Linked DNA regions of Homo sapiens: region 2 is linked to region 1. A link means that fine-mapping ties the variant in region 1 to the expression of a gene that starts in the linked region. Tissue or cell type: fibroblasts. Region 1 holds a variant in brackets; the other region holds the start of a gene. All regions are shown on one strand. Distances are from middle to middle.

Region 1 (8,110 bases):
TGCCTAAATTTGTACTTTGCCTTATGTTAATATTGGTACATATCAGCTCTTTTTGGTTCGCATTTGTCATAGCACCTCCACAATTTTACTTTCAACCTTTCTGTGTCCTTATGGGCAAAAAAAAAAGTGTGAGGGTTATTCCTCAAACACCTGAGGGCATCAATCCCAGTTGTGTACCCAGAGTGGGTGATTGACCACTACAAGCTGTACTTTTGCCAGGATTCCATTACTTCTGACCGTGTAAGCTCCCGCAGTAATGGAAGTGGCCATGTGGAAGCTGTGGGTCTCTGGAAATCAGTGTCTCCTCAGACCCTGTGTCCTGTGGCCCTCGAGACATCTGAGTATTTCCCTTTTGCACTATACAGTCTACTGAGTGATGGCTGCAGGTTTCTTTGTAGAAGGACTAGGGGAAACATTACAGTGTATCCTTGCTACCATGTTTCAGGGTCCTTCCTCACAGGGATGCAATTCCTTTGGTCAGGGGGTCCTGGATCTGAAATTGGCTCAGTTCTGGGAACTGATCAAGGAATCATGATTTTCTATAGAGCAGCCACCTGTAGCCTCCTGTTTTCCCACTCTTGCCCTTTTCTGTGGTCATAGAGGTTGAGCAGCACACTTGTCATTTGCCCCTAAGGATGCTATGCTCCACTAACCATCTCCACAATCCGCTGAGAGTCAGGCCTCCTTGGCTGCCCCTTGGCTTTTTGGTTATTATGGTAATTGTGGTACCCGGGCTTCTGGTCATTGAGCTTTACCACTTGGACCCTATTATTTAGGATCCTATCATCCCAGTGGATTTTAATGAGCCCAGCTCTGCAACCTCTTCCTACAGAGAAGAGCTCCAACTGCACTGTTCAGTGATGCTGATACCCCTCTTCCTGATGCATTCTTTATGGCCTCTGGGTGGGGCCTCTGGGAACTTCCATGGATAATCCTTTGCTCAGTTTTTCTGGACTCACACAATGCATGCTGGTGTGCCTACTTCTCTCAGCTTCCACATTCCTTCCTCTTCCATCTGCCAGGGCAACCCCAGCACACCTACTCCTCTTTAAATTGGCTATCACTCAGAAGAGACCTATAAGAGAAGAGCCTCTTCCTGAATCGCTCCACTACATGGTAGCTAATTCTTGCATCACCTTCCATATATGATCTCTTACCCCTTTTCAGGCCTAGCACTTCCCTAGCTGGGTCTTCCAGGGATGTCTCCTTAATTGTTGTCCTATTGTCCTGCAGCCAAGAGAAGAGCTGGTAGCTTCTGAGGGGGCGGGCCATTTGTTGCAAGGTGTGATGGTGTTCACACCAGGACATTTTTACTAAAGATATCACCTGAGCTAACCTGATAAAATGTGCTGGTGTGGATGCCGTCACAGCTGGTGTGGACACCAGGATATTTTATCAGATTAGCTCTAGTGATGTCTTCAGCAATCACATAGCCACCGTGTGCCAGAGACTGCCCATGCCCCACATTCCCACACAGGACAGGGGGCCGGTAAGAGAACCTGTCCCAGAACTCCATCTCAGTCCCGGTTCTCGCAGACTACTTGTGCTCCTGCTGTTAGTTCAGGTTCTACAAAAAGCAAGTGCCAAGATTGGATTTATTTGGAAAAACAGGAAGGGAGCCAGAGGAAGCTGGGACAGCTGTTAGACCTGATGCAGGTCCAACCTCCATGGAGGAGAGGGAAGGAAGGAAGGCTGGGTGAGAAAAGTCTTGGACTGCAGTGCAATTATAAGAAAGTTTTGTCGAAGCCAATGGGGAGTCCTTGAGCCAAAGTCCCCTTTAGAGGAGTCTTGTGTCTGTAGGATTGCACTTGTATCAGTATTCTTGCAGCTCACTCACTACCCTGAAACAAACCTAGACCTCCGTGCAAATGAAGTGATTGGTTTCAGAGCATGGCAGCCAAGGCCCTTGGCCAACTTTTTTTTCCTGCAATTGGAAATGTGGAAGATCTGAAAGGTGTGTACCTTTCAGATGGTACACATCTGATGCTATGGAAATGATACATTTCATTTCGTTTAATTTTAATGTCTACCTTTAAATTAACAATATTTATTTAACATCTTTGTCCCTTTTCCAGATAATATAACACGTTCAAATTACCTAATTTTTATTGCCACCATTCTACAAATTGTTGACCAATAATTTAGGTCTGTCTGTTTTATTTTTGTGAAAGATGGGAGATCGGATGTCTATGTTTATGTTCATTTTTTCTTAGAATGGACATCAAATTTTCCAACACCGTTTGTTGAAAAAACTATTCTTTCTCCATTGAGTTGCCTTTGTTCCTTTGTCAAAAAATAGTTGACTATATTTGTTTTGTGGGGGGTGTGGGTTTGGCCTGGCAATAAATATTTTAATTTTTCTTGTTTCATTTTTTATTATGACCAATAATTTTCAAGTTTATTTCCTTGTTTGTTTAAATACAAATCTAAACCACAAGCAGGTACAACCAAGACATTTTATCTCATATTTACACTCCTGTCAGATCCTCTTCCAATTTGATGACCACTGACCAGGCTAGCAGGGGATGGGAGAACATTTTCTTAGGTAGCAGTGTTGTGAGGCCTGTGGTGGGGGTGGGGGAAATCAAGGACAAGGACAGGCTCTCATACCTGTTTCCACATTTACCTGGGACCAGGATGGGCAGGAGACACCAGGTCATGGCTCCTGAGCACCAGCTTCCTGGTTTGAAGAGGCAGAGAGTGAGAACTGGACCTGCATGGGGAGAGAGGAGAGAGCCACCTACTCCTCCTGCAGTTGGCTATATTTTTATGAGTCTACTGGGCACTCTGTTCTACAGTTTCATTGATCTGTCTGTCTGTTCTTTTGCCAGTACCATGCTGTCTTGATTACTATAGCTTTATAGTAACTCTTGAAGTCAGATAGTATCAGTCCTCCAACATCATTTTGCAGTATGGTGTTGGCTATTCCAGATCTTTTGCTTTTCCATATAAATTTTAGAATCAATTGTTGATATCTACAAAATAACTCATTAGGAAAGTGATTGGGATTGAAATGAGTCAATAAATCAAGTTGGGAAGAACTGACGTCTTGACTACTGAGTCTACCTATTCATGAACATGGAGTATCTCTTTATTTAGTTCTTCTTTCCAAAAATTGATTTCTTTCATCTGAGTTTTGTGGTTTTCCTCATATAGATCTTGTACACATTTTGTTAGGTTTATACCTTAGTATTTTATTTTTTGGTGATACTGTAAGTTATATAATTTTTATTTCAAGTTTTAATTATTCAGTGCTGGTATATGGGAAAGCAGTTGAGTTTTGTATATTGACTTGTGTCCTGCAACCTTGCTATATTTGTGTATTAGCTCCGGGAGTTATTTTGTAGATTCCTTGGCATTTTCTACATAGACGTATTAGTCTTCAAATAGGGACAGTTGTATTTCTTTCTTTCCAATGTGTATATCTTTTATTTCCTTTTTTGTCTTATTGCAATAAATATAAGACAAATATACGCTGACTATAATGGTCTGATTCCTAATTTTAGGAACTTTTCTTAGTTACTTGATCTTTGGGATCAGCATGGGTCTCAGCTTACATTGTCCCTCAAGGCCAGTCAGTACCTGAAAATGTGTCACTTAGATTTTCAAACTTCTCTTCCACCTTTTGTATGAACTAATACTTGTTCTTGGGTTGAATTACCTTTTTTTCTAAGAGCAGTTGGCTGCTCTGAGGTCACAATTACCCTGAAGGTGTAAGTACCACAGTTCTTCATTTCAAGATAAAAGAAATGCCAGTTTATCCTCTTACCATTCTGAATTCCTCTGATTTTTTCATTGCCTGCAACAAACTGAGTGTTGGCATAAAAATATCTTTGTGCTTTTTAGAAGACATGGAGGATCCCTCAAAGGCTTTTTTAATAATAAGTGAAAGGGGATTTATTCTTCCTTATTGGAGTAATAAAATTTGTTACACTTTATGTAAGTTCCTATGGAGGGTGGGGGAAGGAGGTGGAAATGAAGACGATGATTTAGGATTCCAAAAATTAAAGTTACTTGTGGAAGGCTTTAACTGAAAATAGATCTTCCTCTTGAGATTTTAGTTTGTTCTGAAGAATAATATTACAAAATCCAACA[C/T]TGCACAATAAAAAACGCAAAAGCAATGGAAGATTTATGATGATGTTCCTTTGCAGTTCGTTTAAACTGGTATGCTCTCTTGGCCTCGTCTGTCATACTGAGAGGCTTTATGATCTTGGTTCTGCCTATATGGATTAAATTAAGTTATACATGTGCAATTCTCATTCTGCCTGTAAAGTCTCATTTGGTACTCAGCCTTTTTTGCTGTACTCCCAAAGGACAATGATATTGGGAGAAGAAAGTAGAGGAAAACATCACAGAAGAACCAGAGAGAAAGGCAGAGACCCCCAGGGTGTATTTAGATTGGGCCAGAACTGAATTGCTGACTCGCCAAAAGGCCAGTCCAATCATAGATGTGTGCATAAGAAAAGACCTCACGAGTCCCTTCATGTCTACCCTTCAACATAAACATCACAGTGTCTCAAAATAGCCAGAACTGCTGCATTGACAGTTGAGATAGGGAGGGAGGACATTGGTCCCAAGGCTGGTTGGCATTCACAATAGAGGGAGAGGAAATTAATAAATGATCTGTTCCTGTCTACACAAAGCTTGGACACCCCAACAGAACATAAAAACAACTCAGATCTGAATCGTGATGTTAGTTTTACTGATAACTACAGGTATGTTTGTGGTGGGAGGAAAGGGAGGTTGAATTAAACAAATTTATTTCTTTCAGCATGTCTCTTTGCTTAACTGTTGATTCTGATACGTCTGTTAAACAGGTGGCAGGAAGCTCTGTGTCTGTGTATACATACATAGGTGTACATGAGCAACATGTCATGAAATATGAAATAGAGTCATATGAAAGAGTCAAAACTAAAGGATATAATTTCTGATTGTCCATCTTTTATGTGATTCCAGGGAAAAAGATTATATTTTTATTTCCATATAAATAAAATGAGAAATTCTCTTGGCAGTAGCTACTGCAGACTTTCTTCTGAGCCAAGTGAGATAGACTCTATAGATAAGTAAGGAGAAATGGGTAAGGGTGATCAAGTCACTGTGGCACTGGCTTGCTGTACTCTTGGAAACCAGACATATTGACATCAGTTTTAATTTATATAAATGCCATGAGTTATCTCATAATTATGTGGGGATATGGGAATGAGGGAAAGGAATTGCTTTCCTTAACTTCTCTGTATGAAGAATAGATTCCTTGTCTTATCACACTCCAAATACACCAGGATGGCTAAAGAAGGCTCTTTTATTTCTGGCTGCCACACTGATAACAGAACCTTCACTCGTAGACCTTACTGTGGACCTGGCATCCCCATAAGGATGCTCACAGGTGTCTGATTGGGTAGGAAGTACTGTCATTCTTTTATAAATGGGGAACAAAGCTCAAAAAAGTTATGTCGACAAAGCTCCACCACTCTGGGTTAGAGACAGAACTAAATCTTAGTTATCCATATTCAAAGTCCACAGAAGACATGGCTTGAGGTTAATAGACTGCTTCTAATACGTAGTCAAAAAATTTGCCTCCAGAAATGTCTAGGCCCCTTGTTCAGGAGACAGTCATTCTTTAAGTAAACATTCTTCAAACAACTCCTGTGTGCCAAGCATTGTTCAGGTGCCTGAGAATAAAGCCATGAACATAAATGCTAAAAATTCCTTAAAGAGGTTAAATCCTAGTGGAGGGAGAGCCATAGTTATCACACATAGAAAATATCTTGTGTTTCTGATGGCGGTCAGTGCTGTAGAGAAAAGGAAGGAATATTCAGGGGTGGCTGTTGTGGAAGGTTGGGCCAAGTGTTCAGCTTTTACTTTGGCTTCTCATGAGGATCTCACTAAGCAAGGATTTGAATGAGGTGAGAGAGAGAGAGAGAGAGAGAGAGAGAGAGCCGTGAGACACTTGGGTGAAGAGCATTCCAGGCAGATGAAAAACAAGTATGGCATCAAAACGTCATGCTCTGTGAGGCCAGAATGACAGAAGCGAAAACTCGGTAGGTAAAGATGGGATATTACTGCTCTAGTTGGAATGGGAAGCCTCTCTGGCATCAGCTAGCCAAAAGTAAAGTAAAAACACTTATGATTCTGAAAGTCAGCTCATCTTTAGCTTACTCCCCCCACCCCAGTTGCTTTTGTGGATCCATTCTTTTTTTCTATACTCAGAATCATTTCCGGAGCTACCTGCCACACATCAAAAGGTGCTCTCTTAGGTTGTTTAGATATGCTTCTGGTTGTCGTAGAATAAACATGAGACAGTGCTTATCATTTTCTGAACAGGATCATGAAAGGGTTTACCCTGATCAGGAAAGGGTTTCTCCTTCTTGAAGCATATATTTGGTAAGCAGAGAAACTGTTGAGAAGGAGATCCAAGATTGAGAGCATATGGTAATGTCTGCCAGCACGTGAACCTGAGGGAGAACGTGGTGAATGGCTTTGTTCTGTACCTTGACTCTTTGATTTGTTGACCCATTAGGAATGTTTTTCAAGAAAGTCATCAACCAGAGCTTACACTTTTCTTTGTCTTCACTCTGCCATGAGTAGTGCCTGGCATATAGTTACTACCTGCTCCCTGATGAATAAGGGCAAAGCTGTAGTGCCCTCTTCTAAGACTACAACAGAGTAAACACCACTAAAATTACTGGACTTTAATTCAAGATTTTAAATAATACTTGAACGAGAGTAAATCCTGCTCATAGATGGGAAATAACTATTGGTAATACCACAGTATGCTATTTAAATAGTGTTTCATTTGCAGAGAATATGCTTCTCCAAAGAGATCATAACTTGTGGCAAGAAAATGCTATTTTAGGATAATTACTAGCACCTCTTTTGGTTGTAATAAAAACCAAATTTTGAGTCATTCTTTATGTGCACAATTCCCAGACAGAGAATTGCCTTAAAAACAGATGAGAAGTTGAAAAGAATATAAAATAGTTCTCGGTTTGTGGTATGGCCTCTTTTCAAGTAAAAAAAATCAAAGCTGTCTATTTTTATTATCTGTGGAACATAAGTCATCGTCAAAAACAATATCCAGTAGAAGTCTTTAAAGCAATATTCTACCCTCTTAAAAATATTTCTAGAATGCCATTTTAAAAGATGTGTATAGCTATTACTTTGTGGTACCAATGTTGTGTGTATATGCACTTGTGATTTTTAAAAATATTACTCTATTATGGAAAAGTTAAAATATGTGCAAAGGTGAACAGAATAGTACAGTGACCCTCCATTTTATCCATCACTCAACTTCAACAACTATCAATTTGTAGTCAATTTGGTTTCCTCTATAACCCTACCCGCTTGCCTCCTCCCATATTGTTTTTGAAGGAAATCCCCAACAGATATAATTTCATCCATATATATTTTAGTATGTTTCTCTAAAAGATACCCTTTTATTTTATTTATTTATTTTTAAGATGCAGTCTTGCTCTGTCACCCAGGATGGAGTACAATGGCATGATCTTGGCTCACTGCATCCTCCGCCTCCCGGGTTCAAGCAATTCTCCTCCTGCCTCAGCCTCCCAGGTAGCTGGGATTACAGGTGCGCACCACCATGCCCGGCTAATTTTTATATTTTTAGTAGAGATGGGGTTTCACTATCTTGGCCAGGCTGGTCTTGAACTCCTGACCTCTGGTGATCCACCCGCCTTGGCCTCCCGAAGTGCTTGGGATCGCAAGCGTGAGCTACCGTGCCAGGCCCAAGATACCCTTGTTAAAAGAAAGCATATTCACCACCAGTTTCACTCCTAAAAAATGATTAGGCCCTAATATCACCAAATACCAAGTCATTGTTCAAAAATTCAATTAGTTCATGTATGTTACAACTGATTTTATATATATATATATATATATGGTTTTTTTTTTGTTTTTGTTTTTGTTTTTTTGAGACAGAGTCTCGCCTGTCTCCCAGGCTGGAGTGCAGTAGTGCTATCTCGGCTCACTGCAAGCTCCGCCTCCTGGGTTCACGCCATTCTCCTGCCTCAGCCTCCTGAGTAGCTTGGACTACAGGCGCCCGCCACCGCGCCCAGCTAATTTTTTGTGTTTTTAGTAGAGACGGGGTTTCACCGTG
Region 2 (8,110 bases), 190 kb after region 1:
TGGTGTGCCTTTACTAAGACTCTAGAGTTGGCTCTCCAAAGGGAAGAGGGCACTTCAAGTTGGAGGGAGATTTTTTAGCCATTTGGCGACCGGAGTCTTCCTCATGGTCAGGGGGAGGTATCAAATCACTTTTTCAGAGTTTGCATGCTGCCCTCTCCTGGCCTGTATAGACAGGAGTGTTACAGTACATCAAATGCATTTATTTTCCCCCCACACCTGTGTGGGATATACCTAAGAACACAAGAGAGTTTATTTAAAATATTCAGGATGTCTCATCAAAAATGTATACTTGAAGCTAATCAAAAATCTATATCTGAAGGTAATTAGAGGAAATACATTCATTTTCATTTTCCTTTGGCTCCAGGATTTATACTGAAGCATGTCAATCTTTATATCATGTCACTTTATACCCTTGTGCTTCCACCCGCTCACGTTCCATCCCCTTAACATCCATGTGGCTCTGGGACTCTGTTCTACAAATCAGTGCGCCAACACCGTCTGGGTCCCATCAATGTGCTGGCCACTTAAAGACATCTTTCCAACTGGAAGTGGTGGTGATGGGAAATCTGCTCAAGTCATTGGTCAGTGTTGAGTCTGAGGACCACATTTTAGCCTGACATGTGATCAAAATTAATTCTAGACATTATTAGGCCTATTATACCTAATATTATTAGAAACAAAAGAACTATCAAGAAGCAGCTAATCCAAGAAGAAGATGGCACCATAGGTCTAATTTTTAATTGAACACCTTGTCCTTCAAAACAATGTCTTGTGTGACCCATTTAAGCCGAGTGCTGGGCACGTTTTCCCTGGTTGAAATAATTCTTTTTTGTCCGTAGATATTTGAAGGACCCTGATACTGAGAACATGCCTGCAACCTGGCACGTTGCACAGGGGCAATTGCTGTAGCAACACTGAAGTACAAAAGTGGCTGAACTAATCTGTTGAGTGCCTGTGCCTCTGCAGTCTCTCAGTGTCTGCCCTTGACCCAGACAGGCCAATCCTCTCCATATCAATAAGAACTGAGAGTCTAATACCATTCCTTTGCATTAGAAAAAGAGATGTTTACTTTAAAGAGATTTAAAGGCATGTACCTTGTTTAAACTTTACCAAACTTATAACTCGAGGGTATGTAAAGCTCTGGCTGGCTCTACTAAGATTCATAGAGAATGAACTGTTGATTACCTCTCTCGGTGAAGAATGATAGCAAAAAACAATGAATAATCACAGCATTGTTTATATTTATCTTTGAAAAGCCATCAGTGTCTCCTAGTCTATACAAAGTGAATATAATCCGTCTCACACTCACAAAGTTGCTACCAACACACCCAACATTGCTTTAGAGTTAGAAAGATAAGACAGAAATAGGTCCCAACTTATTGCAGCTATTTTATTTATAAAAGATTGACAAATGCTCACAATCATACAAAACAACTCTTTACCAATAGAATGTAGTTGGGTCGATTAACTTATATTTATTTGCACAGATCAGTTCTTTACAGTTTCTTTCTGATGTAAAAGGAAAAAAAATTTATCTATAAAGTTAAAATGCCTTCTCCCAAATATAATATTCACTTGCCATGTCTATACTTTGACACGATTTCAAAAAGCACCCAGTTAAATCATTCAGATCAGTCGATGGGCAAAAACTATGAAGTTTTCCTGACTCTATGGTAGAGCTAAGCATGCATTTCCTTTAATGACAGAAAGAACATGTTCATCTGATAAGAAACAAAAAACAAACAAACAAAAAAAGGTCGATATAAATTCTCCACTGTGATATACAACACAAATACCTTTCTTATAACTTTCTTATCTTCCTTGGTCGGGCACATGTCTTGGGACAAAGGCTACCTTGAAAGCTAAGCACGGCTGAATGGTGAGTCGATTGCGAATTATCAGTGAATGGTTTGGATATGATCGACTAAGACTCCACTGGGAAGAGTGCTGTTTAGACGAAAGGTAAGGTATTTGATTGCCCCTGCACCTGCTGCAGAGCCATTCTCTGGCTGTACTGGAGTCCCAATCTGTTCCACTGCAGAAAAAGCGCTTTTCATAGGGATTCAGAGCCACATGAATACCAGCCAGCCCTTGAAGACTGCAAAGCAAGACCAATTTTTTAACTGACTTCTTGCAGTCCCCTCTGGCTTTTCCCAGGAAAGACTGAACTCATTAAGCAATGCTAATTTAATCACAAGTCATCAAGGGGTGGGGAGTTATATAACTATCTTTAAAATTTCAAATCAAACATGATAAAATCTCAGGAAATAGATTTTTTTAACAAAACCCACACCTCAAAATAAAAAAAAAAAAGAAATAGAAGTTTATGAGTTTTAGGATCAAATAAAATAAAATCAAACATCAATATTTTCTTACAACTATCACATCTACTAGATAGTTCCAATTCATGACTTTTTAATGTAGTAATATGTGAGATCCTGGAACTGAACGTGCCTGGCGTGCAGAATACAAATGCATTTTTAAACTCGTAAGACAATGTAGAAATAAGTCAGGTACACAGGAAGGATCACTGACAATCACGTTAAAAAATAACTACCTCCCTTCTCTCTTCTCCTTCAACCACAGCGTAGTGATAATAGTGATATTTCCCTCATGAGGCGGGTGCACCTTGGCCATATGCTTTAAAAAATCAAAACTCTGCCGAAGTCCGCTGTGGTTCCTATTCCTGTAGGGAGGATATTAACCTGGTAGGTAGGTGGGAGAGGTTCGTAGCCCGCTTTCTAACAATTGGATGGTGTTTGCCTCGCTATAGTCATGATTAGAATGGCGGTCACCAAGAGGTATTTATTGGTGGGATGACAACATATTGGTATTGACGTTATTTAAAAGAGAAAGAAAGAGCGATCACGGTCAAGTTTGAAGGTCCTTATGTTACACCCACGCATAATTCAATAGGTGAATAAACCTTGTGGCCCCCAGACACACGCCAACAGCTTGAATTACCCGGGGTGAAACCGGCGAGACGTCCACTCAGGGCTTTCGGTCCTGACCAGCCACGGAACAAACAACGTCAATTCATTCTAAGTGCCTGGTGAAGGTAGAAATCAGAAACCGTGTCTGTGTCACGTTAGTCGTGACAAGCTGCGTACCTGCAATGACGTGATGGAAGCCTCCTCCTCGGGTCCCTTCTCTCTCTCTCTCTCCCTCTCCCTCTGCCTTCTCTGAGTTCTCTAGTCCACAGCGGGGTCTAAGTTTGGTCTCCCGCCGCCGCTTTCAGTTCGACCGCAGCCAGACTGCAGCAGACGCCCATAAGAGAAGCGCGCCGGCTGAGGGTGCAGGAGAGGCGAGAGCGCGCCCCGCGCCGCGCGGTCCCAGGCTGGCTGCTCCTGCAGATGTGAAAGGAGCCCGGAGACTTAGCTCTGAATCCTCTCGGCGCTGCATGGGGATATTATCAGAGTCTGGGATTTCTATTGGCTCTGAACACCAAACAAATCACACCAGCCACCCCCCTTCTCTGTTTCACTCAGCGCTTGTTTCTCATCTAACCCACAAACATTGCAGCCACACCACACACTTCAGTCGCTTGCAATGTTTCTCTTTTCCTCCTTCCAGTCAGTGGATTTACAACCCTGTGGTCAGCTCTAACATTTTTTTTAGCAGACTTCCAATTCTAACCTTCTTGTTTATGTAGAGAAATTCTCCCTCCATCCCCTAAACCAGAAAAAAACAAAAAACAAAAAAAAAACACTCATTCCCTTCAGATCTTCTTCCTTTTGCTGATGGGTTTCCAATGTGAAGAATGTAGAAAGCCTGTGTGTGATATGTCTGACATTCTCATACACGTGCGCTTACACACACACACACACACACACACACACACACACCAGGCTCCTTTTGTTTGCAGTAACTGAGGCCAGTGAAATAAAAAGCAAGCTGAGCCTAATAACCTAAGTGAGAGCTTAACTAATAAAATCTTGAATGAATTCAGTGCAAAACACCCATTGCTTGAATTTGTTTTCTGTTCCAAATAGTACTTTGGTCATTATTATCCTGATTTTTGTTTATTGAATGCAGAGGTTTCTAATGCAAATCAGACTCTTCAACATCCAGAGAACATAAAACAATGACGCCAGACCAATTCTTGTGCTCCATCGGCTTGGTGCGTTATACCAGAAGCGTATTGTGACGCCTAAGTGCTTGCTCTTTTCATTATTTTTTGAACTTCTCACCACTGATCATCTCAGGACTGAGACTCCCTTAGTGTGATTCACCAGCCAAAGACGACTATTCAGACTCTGCTGATAGAGGTTCCTGGATGAAAATTTTTTATCTGTATGTGTCAATAGAGATAAACCTTTGGCCCCTTGGCAGGGAAAGGGCCCAAGAAAAATCTGAGATCTTACAAACTTGGCTGGGGAAATTCAGAATAAAATAAAGTTTCAGTGTGTCTTATAAAACAGACCCTCCCTTAGACTTTTCCCCAAAATCAATTTCACTGGTGCTTATGGAAATTTTAATGACAGTTATTCTTGACAAGAAGCCATTGCTTCTGAAATCTCTGAGCTCTGTTTTGATTTTTGACTTGAATTTTTTTTTTGCAGTGTTATCCCTTTTGTATGCTATTTGGTATTTGATATTCTAGTTCCAACTCAACTCACAGCACATTGGGTTGCAAATTCACAGGAAATAACAATTAGTTCTTGAAATATACTATCACCAAACAGACTACCTGCCTTCTTTCTTACGTGGGCACATTACAGGAATTGTGAAATGCAGCCTTATTCTCAGAATGGGCCTGCCTGAAATCAGCTGAAATTGACAAAGGAAATACAAAACAAAACCACGTTTAGCAGTTGGTTCCTGCTAACCACAGTCTAACCTCAAATGGCATATCCTTATTGCTTCAACAACTCCAGTTCATTCCCTTTCTTTAGGTAGGCAGCTAAAAACAAAATACTGTCATAAATCTTTGAAAGTGTAGAATGTATTTCTTCTAAAGATCTCAACAGTCTTCGAAAAAAAAAGGAGTTATAGGTATGATATTCCAGATTTTCCAGGTGGAGAAACAGAGTGGAGGAATGATAAAGTGACTTGCTGAAGGCAGACAGCAAATAGAGCTGGGAGAGTGGATGACTGCCCTGTTTGTTCATACAAACTGTTTGACTCAAAGGAAAGCAAAGGGTTAACACAGCTGACTCTCATTCCTGCCTGCCTTTGCACAGAAGAGCTAACAATTCATGAAATCATCTGTCCAACTTGGTAAATAGTCATTTATGTTATTTCAGAACGGGTCATGTTATTTTCAGATAAGTTACCAATAATTTGCCTTCGAATTGCCTTTCTAGAAAAGAGAGAAACAGTTACTGAGAAAACCAAGTAGATCATTGTATTTTGTGCTTGTTATTTTCAGGGCTCATTATAGCTCTTCATAGCACTGAAAAGACAGTGTAAGTGAAATCATGGGTGACTTAAAGTCACAGATCTATCTTAAACTTCATTTTAGATAATAATTCAAGCCCTCTGTCCTTCAGTTAATGAAGAGCAAAACTGGATGATTTAAAGGACATCTATACCCCATCAGTTGTGTGGTTAAGGGAAAATAAATCGTCAGTGTTTATTATTCTATATTTAGTCTTTTCGTCATTTTGCTACCTTTAAAAGAGTTTTTCAAAGACATTTCTTAAATCCTTTATAAATGACACAGACATCCGTAATAATAAAAACGCTTGCATCTCAGCATGCACAGCAGCGGACAGCCGGGCAGATTCATGACAGAACAATCATTTTATTTTCCACTTATTCAGCCACATCAGGATCATCCTGCTTAGTTCAGTGTGGCACTTTTTACAGGAGATATTCACAAATTGGCATGTATCCAAAGGAGTTGATAAGATGATGATTCTGAATATTATAATTTATAAGAGATGCAAGAGAGAATCAGGCATCTTGGAGTAGGAACTGAGGTGAAAATGATAACATTTTCAAACAGTAAAGGTAAAAGAGGAAATATGTTTATTATTCAGATAATGCTTCAAATGTATTGTCATTTTTATAAACATTTTCTTTCTTGATTTTTTTAAACAACTCTATGAGGAATGTAAGATAAATGCTACTAGGCTAATTTTAGAGATTAAAAGAGTTTGTATAGTAAAGTCACCCTGATGTAGTCACAGTTACGATGCCAGAGGATGGGAATAAGTTGAAGTGGACCCGAAACCCAGTGCTGTTCTGGAGAGAAAATAAGGGTAGGCAAAAATCAGGATAGCAAAAGACTTCTCAAAATTAAAGCTTTCGGAAATTGAAAGAATTTCCTGGCAAAGTGATGATTTGGAGATTTTGATATAGGTCAATGAAGTGGTCAAGAAAAGTACTCACAGTCATTTGCAGAGATTATGAAGGGATTGTTATAAAGGTCAGACTAAGTAACCTAGGGTTTACTTCAGCTCGAAATCATCTTTGATGCTATTATTGGCTTTTACTATATTACAGAATAATTTACAATTTTATTGAATAATTTTCATAGTATGCCATTAAATTTTTTAAAAGATTATGATTACGATCTAAGTATATTTCTGAACTATAGATGACCGCAGATGGTCTTTTACCCTTCTTTTGACATATCTGTGTGTTCTATGATGAATATGTATAATTTGTAATAAGAAAAAAAGTAAAAAAAAAAAAAAAAAGAAAAAGTAGAAGAGCTTATAATTCTTCCTCTACTATACAAAGATACAAGATTTCCATATGACTAGTTTGCCGAAGACTGACATTGCATTCCCAGTGTGATAAGCGTAAGATCACATTCTTGATCTTGTCTGTACCTATTCATGTGTTTTCTTTCTAGCCTAGGTTGGACGCCATTCTAATGCTAATGTTTTCCCCTTGGTTATCTCTTTATTTATCTTAATAGCTTCCCTTTAACTTATGGATTTATTGATAAATCCGTACGTGCTTGTTTTGTCCTTTTATAGCTATAATTATTTCTTAGATTATCATAGTTTACTTTTTAAATTGTTAAAGTGTTTTTGATGCACAAAGTTTGTAAATTCTTCAATTTACTGATTATTCAATATTTATTCCTCCACCATATAAGAAACCTTTATTTTCTAGAAAGTCATTAACTTTGTTTATTAATACTGTATGTTTACATCAAAACCTCAAAATGAAATCTATATTTATGATTCACTGATACATATGAATCTATGCTCTTGCGGTTCACAAATTTCAACTGTTCACATGTATTAAATAACATTTATCTCTCTTGTGTCATGGTGATTCTACCCAGAATATATGAGTGATTTATAAGAGTTTTATAGCAAAATATATAGCTCTCACTGTGTCGCAGAATAAACTCCTTGTCTATGAGAGTGCCATCTGTCATGTTTGTGTCACCCCAGTGGAGCAGAGAACACAACCCACAGATGAGCTGGGGAAATTAATAGGAAAGGGAATGACCATGTATTCAGCTCAATCCCTATATTTTCCCTTAAGACCCAGGGAGCAGGTGGTTGTGGGTTTTTTGATTCATTAGCCCATGCTTATTAGATGTCAGCAAGGCCTCTGCGCCGTACTCTTACTTCTGAGATGTGGATGGGTAGAGGTGAAGAGGGCAAAATGAGAGTGAAGAGAAGGCAGAGCCACCTTTGACCTGCATGTGCTTATGACATCATATAAGCGGTGAACGCAGGAGATGGTTAAACTAAGATTCAGATTGACAAATGTAGCTGAAGGAGTGGCCAGAATGGCTCCATCATGGCACCTGCCACTTCCTTAACTCTTTCCCAGACCCGATAGCCCAGGTGAAGAAGGAGACCTAGATAGTAGTATAGATAGCTGTAGAAGTATCACATTCATCTGCCCCTACAGCTACAGACACCAGACTAGGAGAGCATGCTGGACTCAAAGGGAGCCAATCTGCCACCCATGCAGAGATAATGGGAGGTGGCTGTCCATCAGATTTCTCCTTTTGATGAGCTTGAACTAGGGTTATCTCTCTATCATCCATCTATCTATCTATCTATCTATCTATCTATCTATCTATCTATCTCTCTCTCTATCTGTAGCTAACTTTGTCATTTGATAGCAATAACATAAGCTTAAAGAGTCAGAAAACCAAGCCAGATGTGGTGACTCATGTCTGTAATCCCAG

Direction of the effects. Positions count from the first base shown, and alleles are read on the strand shown. Sizes are in standard deviations (SD) of each study's normalised expression.
For the expression in fibroblasts of the gene that starts at base 3,382 in region 2, C is the low allele of the variant in region 1 and T is the other (moderate effect, 0.44 SD a copy in GTEx).

The links. PIP is the estimated chance that this variant, and not a neighbour inherited with it, causes the effect.
Region 2: it holds the start of GREM2, and the variant in region 1 is fine-mapped to the expression of GREM2 in fibroblasts (GTEx, PIP above 0.99). The same link has a PIP of 0.9 or more in tibial artery.

The regions. Positions count from the first base shown.
Region 1 is chr1:240,419,300-240,427,409 of GRCh38, forward strand. All of the region lies in intron 15 of FMN2 (formin 2), which reads left to right. Among named protein-coding and RNA genes, the nearest start is that of GREM2, 190 kb to the right of the region's middle. The variant C/T (reference allele first, on the strand shown) is at 4,096.
Region 2 is chr1:240,608,774-240,616,883 of GRCh38, forward strand. GREM2 (gremlin 2, DAN family BMP antagonist) reads right to left here and starts at 3,382. Exons shown (of 2, transcript NM_022469.4): 1 at 3,111-3,382.